3 linked regions of the Homo sapiens genome follow. The protein of the gene in region 2 interacts with the protein of the main gene of each other region in a pairwise test. Each region holds a gene or a part of one and is shown on either strand. Other genes may lie near its edges.

The links.
Region 1: the proteins of LGALS7B (region 2) and TAB1 interact in binary tests that used the Homo sapiens proteins (3 or more experiments, as listed by UniProt).
Region 3: the proteins of LGALS7B (region 2) and SSBP1 interact in binary tests that used the Homo sapiens proteins (3 or more experiments, as listed by UniProt).

The regions. Positions count from the first base shown.
Region 1 is NC_000022.11:39,416,780-39,423,779, reverse strand, and holds part of TAB1 (TGF-beta-activated kinase 1 and MAP3K7-binding protein 1), read right to left. Parts: intron 6,990-7,000; coding exon 6,903-6,989; intron 6,070-6,902; coding exon 5,931-6,069; intron 5,049-5,930; coding exon 4,935-5,048; intron 4,262-4,934; coding exon 4,150-4,261; intron 1,954-4,149; coding exon 1,809-1,953; intron 1-1,808. UniProt on the Homo sapiens protein: Key adapter protein that plays an essential role in JNK and NF-kappa-B activation and proinflammatory cytokines production in response to stimulation with TLRs and cytokines.
Region 2 is NC_000019.10:38,784,749-38,792,226, reverse strand, and holds LGALS7B (galectin-7), read right to left. Parts: upstream 3,028-7,478; 5' UTR 3,001-3,027; coding exon 2,995-3,000; intron 2,612-2,994; coding exon 2,523-2,611; intron 1,539-2,522; coding exon 1,337-1,538; intron 648-1,336; coding exon 534-647; 3' UTR 473-533; downstream 1-472. UniProt on the Homo sapiens protein: Could be involved in cell-cell and/or cell-matrix interactions necessary for normal growth control. Pro-apoptotic protein that functions intracellularly upstream of JNK activation and cytochrome c release.
Region 3 is NC_000007.14:141,748,358-141,750,988, forward strand, and holds the end of SSBP1 (single-stranded DNA-binding protein, mitochondrial precursor), read left to right. Parts: intron 1-1,953; coding exon 1,954-1,997; 3' UTR 1,998-2,131; downstream 2,132-2,631.

The DNA.
Region 1 (7,000 bases), on a different chromosome or scaffold from region 2:
ACATTACTTACAATGTACACTACTGGAATAACTGGTTTACTAAGATCTCAGAATTCACCACTACATAATTCATCCCTATAACAAAAAAATACTGGTACCTCAAAAGCTACTGAAATAAAAATTAATTTTCAAATTTTAAAGAAGACTTTTTCCTCATGATATTGATTGATTGATTGAGACAGAGTCTTGCTCTGTTGCTCAGGCTGGAGTGCAGTGGTGCGATCTTGGCTCACTGCAACCTCCACCTCCCGGGTTCAAGCGATTCTCCTGCCTCAGCCTCCTGAGTAGCTGGGATTACAGGTGCCTGCCACCACACCCGGCTAATTTTTGTATTTTTAGTAGAGACGGGGCTTCACCATGTTGGCCAGGCTGGTCTCGAACTCCTGACCTCAAGTGATCCGCCTGCCTCGGCTTCCCAAAGTCCTGGGATTACAAGCATGAGCCACTGTGCCCGGCCAATACATGATTTTTAATTAAAAAGGACAAAGCAGGCTGGGCACAGTGGCTCATGCCTACAATCCCAGCATCTTGGGAGGCCAAGGTAGGAGGATCACTTGAGACCAGGAGTTTGAGATTAACCTGGGCGATACAGTGAGACCCTGTCTCTACCAAAAAAACAAAACAAAGAAAACAACCAAAATTAGCCAGGTGTGGTGGCACACACCTATAGTTCCAGCTACTCAGGAGGCTAAGGCTGGAGGATCGGTTGAACCCAGAAGGTTGAGGGTGCAGTGACCCGTGATCACGCCACTGCACTCCAGTCTGGGTGACACAGCAAGTCTTAAAAAAAAAAAAAAAAAAGTCAAAGCAGAAAAGGTTATCTTCCTACAAGAATCACAGAAAGGAGGAGGAACACAAACTGAACTTATCTTAGCCAGTCAGCAATCCAAGGAGGTCAGGGAAAGACAGTTTTCCTTTGAGACCATCCCTAACGTGACTGTCTTGAAGTCACACTTTGGTGACTCCAAGGTATAAGAAAAATAAGCAACTCTTGGCTGAGGGCCTGTGTCTACCACGCCTAACCTCACTGCGATCTCACAAAGGCAGATGTTACCATCCTCACTGTAGAAATGAGAAGTGAACTGCCGGGCGCGGTGGCTCACGCCTGTAATCCCAGCACTTTGGGAGGCTGAGGTGGGTGGATCACAAGGTCAGGAGTTGGAGACCAGCCTGGTGAAACCCTGTCTCTACTAAAAATACAAAAATTAGCTGGGCGTGGTGGCAGACACCTGTAATCCCAGCTACTTGGGAGGCTGAGGCAGAGAACTGCTTGAACCCGGGAGGCGGAGATTGCAGTGAGCCGAGATCATGCCACTGTACTCTAGCCTGCGTGACAGAGGGAGACGCTGTCTCAAAAAAAAAAAAAAAAAAAAAAAAAAGAAATGAGAAGCAAACTATAAATTGTCTGCCACTCAGGGAGGGCAGTAAAGCCGTCAGGCCCTTGGCAGGAAGTGATGGGTGTGGGAAGGACTCTGCACATCTCTTTCTGTGCTCTCCTCCTGGCCCTGGCCCCTTCCTGGCCGTCTCAGAGTAATGCCGTGCCCATAGCAATTCACATCCATCTCCCCCTCTTCCCTTCAGACCTTGCTCAGGCCCTGAGGACTGGCACTGCTTCAAGCCTAAAATGAGTCAAGTTTTTGGGTGGGATGGGTGTTTTCAGAGCTCTGGGATTCTCCTTCCCCCAGCTTTGAACCCAGAGATGTCTGGTGACGGCCTCCGAGAATCACAGTGCTAGAAGGCAGGGTGAGCACATCACCATGCAGGCCAGCCACGCTCTCCGGCCATGGGCGTGGCTGGGCCCAACTCACCTGGTTGGCCTGCCCAGGCCCATGGGCTGCCTCTAGGGCCTTGTACAACCCCTCCGACATCAGCACCAAGAAGCCCGTCACCCCATCCAGCGGCTGTGCCCCATGGATTTCTGGCTCTGCGATGATTGGTTTGGACTTGGCAGCGCTATGGGGAGAGAGTGGAAGGAAGAGCTTTGCTTGGAACAGCCCGCAGGTGGATGCTGATTCTGCTGAGGGGAGGAATCTATGCCCAGAATGTAAAATAAAACACACAACCTGACAAGAGGAAAAGAAAAGAGAGAAAGAGAAGGTCAGAAAAATAGACCCATCGTCTTACAGCAGCTGCTAAAATAAAGCTTGGAAGGCCATAAAAACTGGCAGGCAGCTGAGGTCAGGATGGCAAAGGTTGAATGCCCGATTCTGGCCTGTTCCATACGTCCTGTTCACAGGGTCCGGTGGTGGCAGGGCAGGGTGTGGGACAGCAAGAGGGAGGGATTATCCCTGGGAGCCCAAGCCTCTTGCTATTATTTGGGCTTTTCCAAAACAGATGGCTGAGACCCCAGATACTCTCCATGTGTACAGGGATCCTTTAGTGACTGGGGTCAGAGTCATTACATGCCAACACATGTGTGTGCACATGGAGGTAAGTACATGAGGAGGTGCTGGCAACACCATCCAGAAGAGCGGAGTCTAAGAACTTCCTGAGGGTCCGTCAGCCAGGGCTGGGCCCTGGGAGCGGTTATTACACAGAATGACGCCATCCTAACTGCAGGTGAGCAGAATGAAGAGATGAGCACCTTTAATGATAGCAGTGAGGGGTGTGTAAACATATCTCCAAACTCATCAAGTTGTATGCATGAAATAGGCACAGCTTTGCATATGCCAATTACACCTTAGGGTTTAAAAAAAAAGAAAAGAAGGAGGAGCAGGACACACCAGCACCTGGGAGGGGCAGGACACACCAGCACCTGGGAGGGGCAGGACACACCAGCACCTGGGAGGGGCAGGACACACCAGCACCTGGGTGTTCCGAAAAGGATGCAGGCTCCTTGGCCCCCAGGACAAACACACACACACACACACACACACACACACACACACACACACACAGAGAGAGACACCCCAGCACCTGGGTGTTCCGAAAAGGATGCAGGCTCCTTGGCCCCCAGGACAAACACACACACACACACACACACACACACACACACACACACACAGAGACACCGTGTGTGTATATGTGCATGTGGCCAGATTTTGGAACAGGATACACAAGAAACTAGCAGCCTCTGGGGAGGCAGCGAGTCCTAGAGTGTGGTGTAGGAAGACTTCCTTTCCCTGTATAGACCCCAGCACTGTCTGAAGTGTTTTAAACTATGGATGTCCTTTCCAATAAAGGAAACAGGACCCCACAAATTAGGGACAAATATTCGACACTCAGTTGCCTAGATCGCGTGAGGGCAAGGAGTTCTAACATGCACTTTCTAGGCCATGAGGCCTCTGTTGATGGGAACTCTGGCTTTGGGAACAGCCTTGGCCATGACATTAAATGCCATGATTGGCATCAGGCAAGTGGACGCGCCTATCTCCCCAACCAACACTTCACATACAGGTTACCTGACGGTTAAGGACACATATTCCAAATTCAGGCTGCCTGTGTTCAAGCCCCATGACCAGGGTGGGCTGCCTGATGTCTCCATGCCTCAGTTTCCTCTTATGAAAATGCCTCTGGGGTGATGGCAGTGACTGCCTCAGGGGGCCTGAGTAGGGAATGCATAAAAGAAGGTACATCCAGAGCTCTGCACGGGCTTGGCCGTGTGATGATGACTGCCCATTCTGCTGCCATGAGCGCTGGGGTGATGTCCAGAGGAGGTGTCCTCAGAGGGAAATACACAATTCATCTCACACCTCTGCTGCAGCCATGGGCAGCACCGACCAACAGGCCTGGTCTGTCCATCCCATGCCAACTCTGGCTTCGCCTGCCTCCCTTGTGGCACTAGTTGCTGCCCTCAGCTTTGGCCCAGCTCAACTCCACCCCTTGTTTCTACAGTACCCAACTCCTGGCCTGCTGGGCCTAACCTGCCCCAAACCAACCTCTCTGGGAGGAAGAAAGAGTTTGCCTGGGCTCTGAACTACTTTGACTGCACATGTGTCACTGGGGCCTACAGTCTGCGTCTGCCCCAGGCCTTCTGGACCTTTTTTTTTTTTTGAGACAGGGTCTTGCTCTGTTGCCCAGGCTGGAGTGCAGTGGCATGATCACGGCTCACTGCAGCCTCGACCTCCCAGCACAATCAATCCTCCCATCTTGGCCTCCCTAGGACCTTCTGTTCTTTCAAGCACAGGGGACAGCTGGGCTGGCACCTACCTGAGAAGGTCAATGTCCGTGTAGCCATATTTAACCTTGTAATCCCCGATCCGCCGGGTGCTCTCCTGCCCACAGATGATCCCCACCTGCTTGATCTTTCCAGCATCCAAGCCTACGGAGGGAAACAGTGCAACAATCCTGCTTCTTGTTCACAAAGAGGAACAAAAAGAAGGGGACAGAGACACAGTCATGGGAAGAAGGCAATAAGGACCCACTGAATAGGAAATGAAGACAACACCAGGGCACCTGGGAGAGCAGCTGACCCAAAGTCCCTGGTGTCCTCAGTCCCCACGCCCATCACGACACACCTCACTCAGAGCCCGTCCTCCAGGCACCACCTGGCACGGAGCAGCTTGCCTGCCGTCTCCCTGCCCATCCCGTGTGCCCCACATCTGCCTGGAGCTCACTGGGAAGGGAAGGAGCAGCTCAGCAGCAGCTGGGCTCCCTGGACTTCTTTGGCCTCTTTCAGTCTCCACCAATAACAGTAAGTGTCTTCTGTGTGCCAGGCACTCCAGGAAGCATTTCACATGCACTAACTGAATCCTCCTAGCATCCCGAGGTAGGTTACTATTATCCTCATTACACAGCGGGGGATCTGAGGCACAGAAAACTTAAGTTCCAATCACCAACCAGTAAGCGGCAGTGCTGGGAATGAACCCCAGGCAGGCTGGCTGGGGAGCCCAAGATCACAGCCCCTCTACCACACGCCTCTCTACCCCACCACCAAAGGCAGGCGAAGGGTGAGCCCATGGGGATCAGCTTCCGCTCCCACTCTCCCCACTCACCCAGCTGCGAAAGACGGAAGAGCTCATCCTCGTTCTCTGTGGTGTGGTCCACGTTCAGCTGTGTCACCTGCAACCCATCCACTGTCGATTTGCATAAAAGTGCACGGTTTGTACCTGTGGCAGAATGTGAACAGCTAAGCAAAGACTACACACAGAGAGAAATAGGGCATACCGGGAAGGCAGAGAGGGAAAAGGCAGGCATTTCACACATGGAAATACCTGAAATGGGCAAAACAGGCTCAGACCAACGGGGTGAGTCACCAGTTAGGGACAGCTGGTGATACGAAAGAATTGGGTTTAACTTTTTCAGTGTAATCATAGGATTATGATCTTAATAAAACAGACCTCTTCTCTAGAGATACAGACTGAAATATTTACAGATAACATGATACAGTGTCTGGCATTTGCTTCAAAATAGAGAACGTGGGGACAAAGAAGGCTGGCCACAGTTGATAACTGCTGGGATTGGGGATGGGCGCATGAATGTTCATTAAATATCAGTCACTCTATTGTTCTATATTGTGGAAAATTTTCCACTGGAGTATTAAAAAAAGGCAGCATCATCAGAAGGGTCTCTACAGAGTCCTTTCTACTGAAACCTGCACCTGTCTGGTCTTCTCACAAACCCCAATGTCCCTGTCACCTAGCCCCATCTCGCAGCTGTTCATGGGGATACTGGTTGGTTATTCATGGCCAGGTAACCTCTTCCAGAAGCAGCGGCCCCCAAGGCCACCCAGAATGGGATACGACTCGTCCAGAATGAGTTAAGAAGCAGAATAGGGACTAAAGGCCAGGACACCTGTCTCCCATCCCGTCCTTTCTCCCTTCCAGTTGGGACTGAGGCGTCACTGTGGAGAGGGACATACCCAACGGTCTCAGGAGACCCTGGGTTTAAAGTGCGTGAAGTGTCTGGAAAGCAGATTGTCAAATAATGCACCGACCCCTGTGGCTGACCTCTCCCCAGTCCTCCCTGCCCTGGGACAGGAGGGGGCTCACCGACATTGGCGACGTAGAGCTTGTTGTTGAGAAGGACCGCCACAACGGCCATGGCCCCTCCCGAAATTTCCCTCTCTAACGTCTTGAGTCTCTCAAGGATCTTCTGATACTGAGGAGGCAGCTGGTGCTGAGGGACTCCCTACAACCATCAACAGAGGGTCAGGGCAGGACAGAACTCTGGACCATCTTCCTAGCCCTCTCCACTCCCTTTACTCTTTTTTTTTTTTTTGAGATGGAGTCTCGCTGTGTCCCCCAGGCTACAGTGCAGTGGCATGATCTCGGCTCACTACAAGCTCCGCCTCCCAGGTTCACACCATTCTCCTGCTTCAGCCTCGAGAGTAGCTGGGACTACAAGGCGCCCACCACCACGCCCAGCTAATTTTTTGTATTTTTAGTAGAGACGGGGTTTCACCATGTTAGCCAGGATGGTCTTGATCTCCTGACCTTGTGATCCGCCCGCCTCGGCCTCCCAAGGTGCTGGGATTACAGGCGTGAGCCACCATGCCCGGCCTCCCTTTGCTCTTAAGAGCAAAGATCCGAGGGCCCGGGGGACAGACAGACAGATGGTCCATGGCACAGCCAAGATGAAGCCTTCGCTACAGCTCCAGGCTAAGGTTCTTCCAGAAAGCTGGAGATGACCGAACTCACAGCACAGAGGTAAGCGCTGCAGGTGGCAGTAGGCGATGTGAGCAGGTGGTTGACAAGGGCGGGGACCCATTCAGGACGAAGGACTGGGAAAAGCCCTTCCTCATGTCCACCACTGCCCAGACACTGCTGAGCTTTAGCATGCAGCTGCCCACAGCAGAGCAGCGAGGTCCCTCACCTGTGGCCACACACCAGTGTCACCCATCAGGAACTGCTCCCTAACGCCTGTTGCTCTGGCCCAGTAATGTCAAGAAAGTAGATGAGTCCATGCTCCTTGCAAAGCTGGGCCTGGACTTGACTCCCCTGGGTGTCGGCTGGGGAAATTACCTCTGGCAATTGCGACTGGAGGCTTGCCTTCTCAGCCAAGGCGTCGTCAATGGACTCCAGGAAGCTCCTCTCCACCACATCGAAGGCCTAGGGGGACA
Region 2 (7,478 bases):
GGGGCGGGAGGCCAGGAGAGAAGAGGGTGGGAGAGATGAGCTGCAGGGGGATACGGGACCCAGGGACCCGGGATCTTATAACACGCTTTCCACCCGTAGGATTGGGGCCCACAAATGACCAGAAAGGTGGGACTCATTCGCCCCCTTTGCAGATGGACCCATGTTGGCGCCCCTTAGATCTGCAGTGGGGGCACCAGGACCTGCGGTGAGCGCCTCTGCGCCCCAAACGCCAGCAGGTCCGCCCGACCGCATTCCCAGCTGGCTTGCTTTGCACAAATGCTGCGTCAGGGCACGCCCCACACCCACTCCTTCCCAGATCGCGACCCTCACGCCTTCGCAGACAGAAAGTGTCCTAAGCACAGGCAGGCTCAGAGCCCGCCTCCGCCTCGGATTCGCTGTGTGGCCCGGAGCCAGTATCTTGGCCTCTCTGGGTCTCAGTTTGCTCATCTCAGTGAATGGGACACAGACACAGTCGCGCTGCGGGCTAACGCTTTATTTGCCAGCCAAGGCCCCGGGCCCGCCTGGGCTTCTGCTCAGAAGATCCTCACGGAGTCCAGCTGCACGTCCCCGCCCACCTCCACCAGGCGCACGCGCGCCAGCGGCAGGCGGTGGCGGAAGTGGTGGTACTGGGCGTCCCCAACCACGGCCTGCAGGGGAGGGTCGGTGGTGAGGATTCCGGAGGCCCGTGCTGGGTGGCCCTGGGGAAATCACTCATCCCCTCTGGGCCTCAGTTTCCTCACTGGGAAAATGGGGCTATTGTTCATTCTAACTCTTGCGTGAGGATCAAACGAGTTGACTGTGTGGCACAGTAAAAAGCGGCTTTTTTAGTGCTGGTAATGGATATTCTCATTTCAGCGACCATTACCCGCTATTAAAGCGCAGAGGAGGGAGGTGAATTCGCGTAAGCTGTGGGTGGTGGAGGATCTGCCGCCACTCCCACCCGCCAATCCTTGCTAGGACGAGTTCCTGGGCGCTGTTTCCAACCCATCCCTCCCCATGCCTCAAACCCCGGACCTCAGGAAGGAATGAACTGGGAGTAGGGTCTGGGATGGCGAGTCTGGGCCACGCCTTCCCGCTAGGACGCCCACCCCTTGGACACTTGGCTGGTGCTCGCCTCGTCCTGACCCTGCTGTCTCTCTGTCCCTCGGACCCAAGTGGGAGTTGTTTAGGCGAGAGAGAGGGTCGAAGGACACCCTTCTCCGCCTTGGCCACGACTTCCCTACCCCCCTCACCCCGCCCCGAACCTCCCTGCCTTCCACCAATAGCCTGGCTTTGCCCAACCCTCTGCTCCAGGGACCTAAGTCTTGGCGTCCACGCCCCTGTCGCAGAGACGCACCTTGAAGCCGTCGTCTGACGCGATGATGAGCACCTCGAAGGGCTGCCCGCGCTGGAAAGGAACGCCCGGCCCGCGCTCCTCGCGGCCCCAGGAGCCTTGCTCCTTGCTGTTGAAGACCACCTCCGACGTGTCCAGCCGGGGGTTGAAATGCAGGGCGGCATCGGAGCCCTGCTCCTCCCCGCACAGCAGGTTTACATGGAACCTGGAAGAGGGGGATGGTGGCCGTCAGGGCTCAGAAACCACCCAGACCAAGAAATGTTGAGGGTGAGGAATACCGATGTCTACAATTTACTTTGAATGAATAAGTAAATGAAATGTTGGCTGGGTGCAGTGGCTCACCCTGTAATCCCAGCACTCTGGGAGGTGGAGAAGGGAGGATCGCTTGGGCCCGGAAGTTAAAGACCAGCCTGGGCAACATAGCGAGACCCCACCTTACAAAAAAACGAAAGAACAAACAAAACATAAACCGCCCAGACCAAAGTGAAGGTCTTATGGGCTGGCACTCCCCATTCCCAGAGTACCCCCAAATTAACAGGGACCTGAAGACAGGCACACACCGCAGAAGGAGAGGTGGGCGACTAATGACCAGGGAGCTTAGATTCCCAAGGCAGCCAAAATATCATGAGGCCCTTGGCAGAAACCTACCCAGACCAAACTCACTACGCTTAGGGCAGGGTGCCCTCATTTCCAAAGAGCCTGGGAGCTGCCCAGGAGGTCTGGGTGATAGCCAGGGTGCTCCTGATGCTCAGGGAACCCTCAGCTTCTACAGGACAAAGAATAATACCAGGAACCCCAGTATTTCCAGGGTACCTCAGAATCCAGAAGGCCCGAAGTTCCTTAGCCAGGAAGTCAAAGGATGGCTTGGCAAGGACTCCCAGGGTCCAGGGTGTCTCCAGGACTTGGAGTATTTCCAGAGTTCCCTGGGACTCAGACATGGAAGTCATAGGACTATATCTAGGAACCCTGAGATTACCCAGGGACCTCAAATGCTTAGGGAAACTTAGGGACCCCAGCCACAAAGGCACGGGGGCAAATACGAATACATCAGATTTGAGGTCAGAAATGGCCTCGGACTCCTAGCCTGGTGGATACAGGTGGCCTCGGGCCCCTACTTCTGGACTGCAAAAATTGGGAGTCAGCTGATCCTGAGACCTGTACCCTTTACCCCTAGGGCCTGGGGCCTCACCTGCTGGCATTGGGAGGAACCAAGCCGCGAATTCTCAGCACCGTGCCAGGGCGGATGCCCTCGGGCAGTGAGGACTTGTGGGGGACGTTCTGCAAGAGTGGGGTGCAGGGGCCACTGTGAGCCGGTGAGACCGAAGGAGGGAGGCAGAAGGTGGGTCACCCCTCAGAGGAGCCGACCAGGGCTGAGACTGGCAGAAATCAGTGGAAGAGGAAAGGGTGGCGGAGAGGCAGGAAAGAGACCAGAAACAGACAGGGAAACAGATGGGGAGAGCAACAAAGACAAACAGAAAGATCCTCAAAGAGGGCCCCAGAGGAAGCCACAAAGAGGTAGAGGGGACAGTCGGGATGGGGGTTACCCGGAGGCCACAGCCCAGGCCAGTCCGTGGCACACTCACTGCCCACTTGCTCCTTTGAAAGAGGAGCCCCCAGCCCCCTCCCTGCTTGGCCCCGCCCCGGGCCCCTGGAGCACTCACGGACATGGCTGGGACCGGGTTGGGCAGCCGTGGTGGTGGGGCCTGCTGGGGACCTTAAATAAAAGCAGGGCGGGGCTGGCCCTGATGACTCACCCCACCCCTTCCCACCCACCACCCACACCTGGCACGGACCCTGGCCCTGGGGCAAGCCTGGCGAAGTGGGAGTGGCGCCTCTTCTTGGGGGCCCTGATCCCCCCATCACCCAGAGCCCGGGTGCACTGCCCCTCTCCTAGGAGCTGATAATAAGAGCCACCGCCCCTCCACCCCTGTCTTCCCACTGCCTGGCACACAGGAGAGTCTCTCATGCTCATTTTATCCACAGACATGTTGGGTCCTGAGAAGCCAAGCCCAGCGGGAACTCTAGACCCTTCTCTCCAGCTGAGAACCTCCTGCCTAGACTGGAAATGTCTGCGCTGAAATCCCTGCTTCTAAGTCTCCAGTGGAACAGCAGCCACAACAACGACGATAGTGCCAGACAGGGGGACTTCACAGGGTCGGAGGGCGGCCTGGTTGGCTCAGTGCTGCACCCCTGGGTCCTGGAGTGTGCCGGGTTCATGGGAAGTCCTCAGTCAGGAGGGGTGAAAGGAGGGGATCCACTAGGACTACGCTTGTCATTTCCCAGGCCCTTGGGCTGCCCAGGATATGCAGGAAATCACTGATTGGGACCCCACCATTCCAACAGAGAGAAGCATGGGTCACCCCCATTGTACAGAGAAGGAGGCTGAGGCTGGGATGGGAAGTGATTTTCCACAAGCCGGGCAGGACCCATTGCCCCAACCTCTGCCTTTCCTCACCTCTGGGCGTGCCTCTCCTGTGGGTTCTGTCTCTGGGGCTGGCTGTCTGGCTCTGTTTGTCTCTGTCTATAACTGTCTACCGCGTATTCCTGTCCCACTTCTCTCCTTCAAGTCTCTCTTGTTCCTCCTTCCAGGACTGTTACCATCTTCCCACCAATTTTGCAGGTCAGGATGAGGTGGGTTTTAGGGTGGTGGGTGGCCTAGCATTCCATCACCACCTAGATCAAAAGCAGAGCAAGGTGGGGACCCTCCCGCCAGCCCCAATATAGCCCGCTTGGGCCCAAGACTCTAGAAGAGAATCCAGGGTTGGGGAAGTAGACTGGGGGAGGCGGGGGGGGGGGGGGGGGCGGGCAGGACTGAAATCTGTTTCTGAAAGGCAGGGATGGTGTGGGAGCTGAACAGAAACCACTCCTGGCTGGGCATGGTAGCTCACGCCTGTAATCCCAGCACTTTGGGAGGCCAAGGTAGGTGGATCACTTGAGGTCAGGAGTTCAAGACCAGCCTGGCCAACATGGTGAAACCCCTTCTCTATAGAAAATACAAAAAATTGGCCAGGTGTGGTGGTGGACACCTGTAATCCCAGCTACCTGGGAGGCTGAGGCAGGAGAATTGCTTGAGCTGGGGAGGCGGACGTTGTAGTGAGCCGAGATCACACCACTGCACTGCAGCCTGGGCGACAGAGCTAGACTCTGTCTCAAAAAATAAAAATAAAGCCTGTAATCCCAGCACTTTGGGAGGCCGACGCGGGTGGATCACGAGGTCAGGAGATCGAGACCATACTGGCTAACACGGTGAAACCCCGTCTCTACTAAAAATACAAAACAAAATTAGCCGGGCATGGTGGCGGGCACCTGTAGTCCCAGCTACTCGGGAGGCTGAGGCAGGAGAATGGCATGAACCCGGGAGGCAGAGCTTGCAGTGAGCCGAGATCGCGCCACTGCACTCCAGCCTGGGCAACAGAGCAAGACTCCATCTCAAAAATAAATAAACAAACAAACAAATAAATAAATAAAAATAAACCACTCCTAGCAATGCAGCAGCCCTCCTGGACCTTTTCCACTCCCCACCCAACTCCTGCACTCCTGCCCCACCCAGCAGGCTGCTGAGAGGCCTGGGCAGAGGCAGGCTGGCAGTGGAAAGTTTGGGTGGAGACACCAGACCCAGAACCATCCTCCACCCTCTTTGTCCCAGGCCCCCAGCCTCTTGCCCCCTCCCCACACACTCCAAGGCACCAAGGTGGGGGACCAGTTCCTAGGGACGTGAGCTCAGAGAGGGAGGCTTGCAGCTGCATTTCAGTGGGAGCTGCAAGCACCCCCATTCTGCAGAAGACAAAACTGAGGCCTAGACAGGGACAGCTTCTCAGCCAAGGAAGCGGCCAGGCCCTGGGCTCCACAGGGGTGTCTGTGCCAAGGACATGTCATGGGCACGGACAGAGAGGACAGCAGGGTGTCCGGTGATCACACCACCAGCGCAGCTCAGTTAGTTCCCGAGAATGTTCCCTTGAATGGTGAACTCCATCATTCTAACATTATTGACCATTCTAAAGAACACACTCCTCACATTACTGACGCCTCATGCTGTGTACCGTGTTTCCCAGGAACTCAACTTTTTAGTGATCGCTTCACTGTGGCTGGATGTAACTTCACATGCAGCCAACATGCTGCAAGTCCCAACGTGCCTTTGCTGACTGGCCAAAGCTTTCCATTCACTCTATTATTAGCCTGAAGTCCTGACTCCTTTCTGGTAACAGATCTGCATCCTTGATTGCATCCTTGATGGGTTTTTGTTGTTGTTGTTGTTGTTTGTTTGTTTGTTTTTGAGACAGAGTTTTGCTCTGTCACCCAGGCTGGAGTGCAGTGGCACGATCTCGACTCACTGCAACCTCTGCTTCCCAGGTTCAAGTGATTCTCCTGCCTCAGCCTCCTGAGTAGCTGGGATTACAAGCATGTGCCACCACTCATGGCTAATTTTTGTATTTTTAGTAGAGACAGGGTTTCACCATGTTGGCCAGGCTGGTCTTGAACTCCTGCCCTCAAGTGATCCACCCACCTCAGCCTCCCAAAATGCTGGGATTACAGGCATGAGCCACTGCATCCAGCCCTTGATGAGTTCTTATTCAATTGTGTTATCTTTCTCATTAGTTGTGCAATAATTTTTTTTTTTTTTTTTTTTGAGACAGGGTCTGGCTCTCTCTGTGATCATGGCTTACTGCAGCCTTGGCCTCCTGGGCTTGGGAATCCTCCCGCCTCTGGAGTAGCTTGGACTACAGTTGCACGCCACCATGCCCAGCTTTTTTTTTTTTTTTTTTTTTTTTCCTAGAGAGGAGGTCTCACCATGTTGCCCAGGCTGGTCTCAAACTCCTGGGCTCAAGCGATCCTCCCACCTTGGTCTCCTAAAATGTTGTGATTACAGGCCTGGCCACGGTAATATTTGTGTGTCTTTTTTCGGTTTTAAATAACTAATGTGTTTATTTCCCAATTGTTATTTCATTGAGGTATTTTTCCCATTAAATAAAAGGTTCAGATTTTGTTGTTGTTGTTGTTGTTTTGAGACAGGGTCTTGTTCTGTCGCCCAGGCTGGAGTGCAGTGGTATGATCTCAACTTACTGCAACCTCTGCCTCCCAGATTCAAGTGATCCTCCCACCTCATCCTCCTGAGTGGCTGGGACTACAGGAGTGTGCCACCACACCTGCCTAATTTTTGTATTATTTTGTACTGATGGGGTTTCGCCATGTTGTCCAGGCTGTTCTCAAACTCCTGGACTCAAGTGATCCACCTGCTTTGGCCTCCCAAAGTGCTGGGATTATAGGTGTGAGCCCCTGCTCAGGGTTCAGATTTTAATGGAATAGTTCAATGAGTTTTGACACATATAGTCACCTGTGTAACCACCTCCCCAATCAAGTTTCCTGGTGCCCCTAGAAACAGTCACTGCTCCTTCTGCCACATGAAGCCACTGTCACTCCTGAGCAGTTAGTAGCCACAAAGTTTCCTTTGATCCATTGTGGTGGCATGTGCCTGTAGTCCCAGCTACTCGGGAGGCTAGGGCAGGAGGATCACCTGAGCCCTGGAGGTGGAGGCTACAGTGACCCAAGATCACACCACTGCACTCCAGCCTGGGTAACAAGGCGGGCGGATCACCTGAGGTCAGGAGTTTGAGACCAGCCTGGCCAATGCGACAGCGTGGCGCCTGCCTGTAGTCCCAGCTACTGGGGAGGATGAGGCAAGAGAATCACTTGAACCTGGGAGGCGGAGGCTGCAGTGAGTTAAGATCGCACCTCTGCACTCAAGACTGGGTGACAGAGCGAGACTCGGTCTCAAAAAAGAAAAAAAAGGCCAGGCGCGGTGGCTTACACCTGTAATCCCAGCACTTTGGGAGGCCGAGGCGGGCGGATCACGAGGTCAGGAGATCGAGACCATCCTGGCTAATACGGTGAAACCCCGTCTCTACTAAAAATACAAAAAATTAGCCAGGCGTGGTGGCGGGCACCTGTAGTCCCAGCTACTCAGGAGGCTGAGGCAGGAGAATGGCATGAACCTGGGAGGTGGAGCTTGCAGTGAGCCAAGATCGCGCCACTGCACTCCAGCCTGGGCAACAGAGCAAGACTCCAAGATTCCGTCTCAAAAAAAGAAAAGAAAAGAAAAGAAAAATAAGTTCATTTGCCGTGAAAATGAGAAAGTGGGTTGGGACAG
Region 3 (2,631 bases), on a different chromosome or scaffold from region 2:
CATGATTTCTACCTTAAGTCTCTTAGATTTGCCTTTTATCTTTCTTCTTTCCTTTGCTCCAGAGTTCATGTCTTAACCACCATACCTTATTAATAATTTATAATTTGTATAGAATGCTCACATGGTTTCTTACTGCTAAGTTTCTTTGAAAGTGTATTAACCTTGAAAAGCAGTGTAGGTATTTTCCTACCCTCCTGTGGGTCCCAATATAAACCACAAGTGTGGGCAAACTTTAGATTGTTCGGATTATTGAGTTGTTACTAATAAGCCAAACGGAAGCATTTCAGATGATATGCTGTTTTGTTTTTTTTCCTTGTCACTAGGTTCCACTAGCACAGTCAGTTTACTTTAGGTTTATGTCTAATGGTAAAATTGAAGAGCTCTTCAGTGACATTTGAATTGAAGAAAATAGAGTTTATTGGTTGATCTGTTTTATTGGTGATTTTTTTTTCTCCTAGGGATCCTATCTGTAACTAAAAAACCACCACCAGTGGATGGCACTCTTGGCTTTTTCCACAGTGATATTAATTCGAGTAGTTTGTTCTGAAGTAACCGTTCTGGACCAAAACATTCTAGTTTTTGGAAGACTATGGTCATGAACAAATATTCAGTCCTTGGTGGATAATTTTATAGTTACAAGAATCTTTTGGAATTATAAAGGAAATGCAGTCATTCCTCCATGTCCCTTGTTTCTGCATCTGTGGATTCAACCAAGCACAGATTGAATATATGTGAAAAAAAGAAACCAATAAAAATAATACAACAACAACAAAAATACAAGTGAAACAATACAGTGTAACAGCTGTTAACATAGCATTTACCTTGTATTAGATATTGTAAGTAATCTAAAGATGATTTAAAGTATATAAGAGGAAGTACATAGGTTATATGTGATTACTATACCATTTTATATCAGGGACTTGAGCATTGTGGATTTTGGTATCTATAGGGGTCCTGGAACCAGTCCCCCAATGGATACTGAAGGATGACTACTACTTGCCTCTGTTCTTTTGTTTATTTTTAGCTAACTCCCTCTGGAACAGCATTTTAAGAGCAACGTCTGATATTTTTGGATAAAAATGCTAACTCTGTGATGTTGATTCATAAAATGTTCCCAAGAATTGGTATATTAAAATTATTCTGGGCCAGGTGCGGTGCTCATGCCTGTAATCCCAGCACTTTGGGAGGCCAAGGCGGGCAGATCACTTGAGGTCAGGAGTTCAAGACCAGCCTGGCCAACATGGTGAAACCCTGTCTCTATTAAAAATACAAAAGTTAGCCAGGCATGGTGGTGCACACCTATAATCCCAGCTACTGGAGAGGCTGAGGCAGGAGAATCGCTTGAACCCAGGAGGCAGAGGTTGCAGTAAGCTGAGATTGCACCACTTCACTCCAGCCTGGGTGACAGAGACTCCATCTCCAAAGGAAAAACAAAAAGTTATTCTGTATTGTAATTTAAAAATAAAATTTCTTCTATTTGAATTTTTAAAGTTAAAAACGTAAGTAAATCCTGTCATTGCTAACAGGGCCACATATGGACTCTTACTCTTTCCTCTAGACCCCCAGAGTGTAGAATGTGATACACTTTTGTCCTTTTCTCTGAGGATGTGCTGCCTAGTGTCGTGGAATCTGCCTGACCATTGCAAGCATCCAATTTTGTGACCAGTTCTTTTGCAGGAAATTGTTTCTGAGAAGACTGGAAGACAAGAAATATCCCACCTCTTCTAACAAGATCTGAATTGTTCGAAAAGCAGCCAGTGCCTAACTTGTAGCTCCACTTATGCCAACTGTATATATACCTCTCGTGAGCATAGCAAGTGATTTAATATTTTGAAAAGATGGCTAAAATCCTTTTAATGAACAGCACTAAAGTTATATGTATTAGAGGAGAATTATTGAATGAGATGGAGAAAGAGTTCTGAAATTAATATTTACATTTTGGCTTTTTTACAGATAATATTATATTTCTGAGTGACCAGACGAAAGAGAAGGAGTAGAAAGGATGATTCTTCTTTGGCCATCATTTGGTACAGTCTCATTTCCAAGTCATGTATAATCTTTATGGCTTCCAAGGACAAGAATTAAAATACTCTTTTACGTAAAATGAGTAATAATCTTTTTTCTGACTGTCGTTCTCGCTCTCCTTTTTGTGGTATAATCTTGGTAGCTACTATCTGTTATGGCATTTACTAGTTGTTTATTCTTCTAAGGGTGGTTTCTATGTACAGGTATACAAAATAGTAAACTTTCAGGCTCATTTGTGTTATGGCAAAGGGATAAATATGCTTTGGGAAGGTCTCCTGGTTTTTGTATACACTTTTATTACAATATTGATTTGTCCAATCAGTGAATTTACTGAGCATCACTGTATGTGAGACATTTATCCCATATTTGTAAATATTGATTTTCTTAACGTTTTGCTCTGTAGACATGAAGGCAAGGACTGAATCTTCTGTTTGCCTGCACTTTAAACCATGCTTTACATAGAATAGCCACTCAGTAAGCATTGATAGATGAATCATCCCAATGGGATTCTAAGCTTCAGCTCAAATTGAAGGGAGTTGCTGAGCAGTGGTTAGTGTCTAACCTAAACATCTTTAAGACTAACCTACCTTCTTCATATCTTTTGTT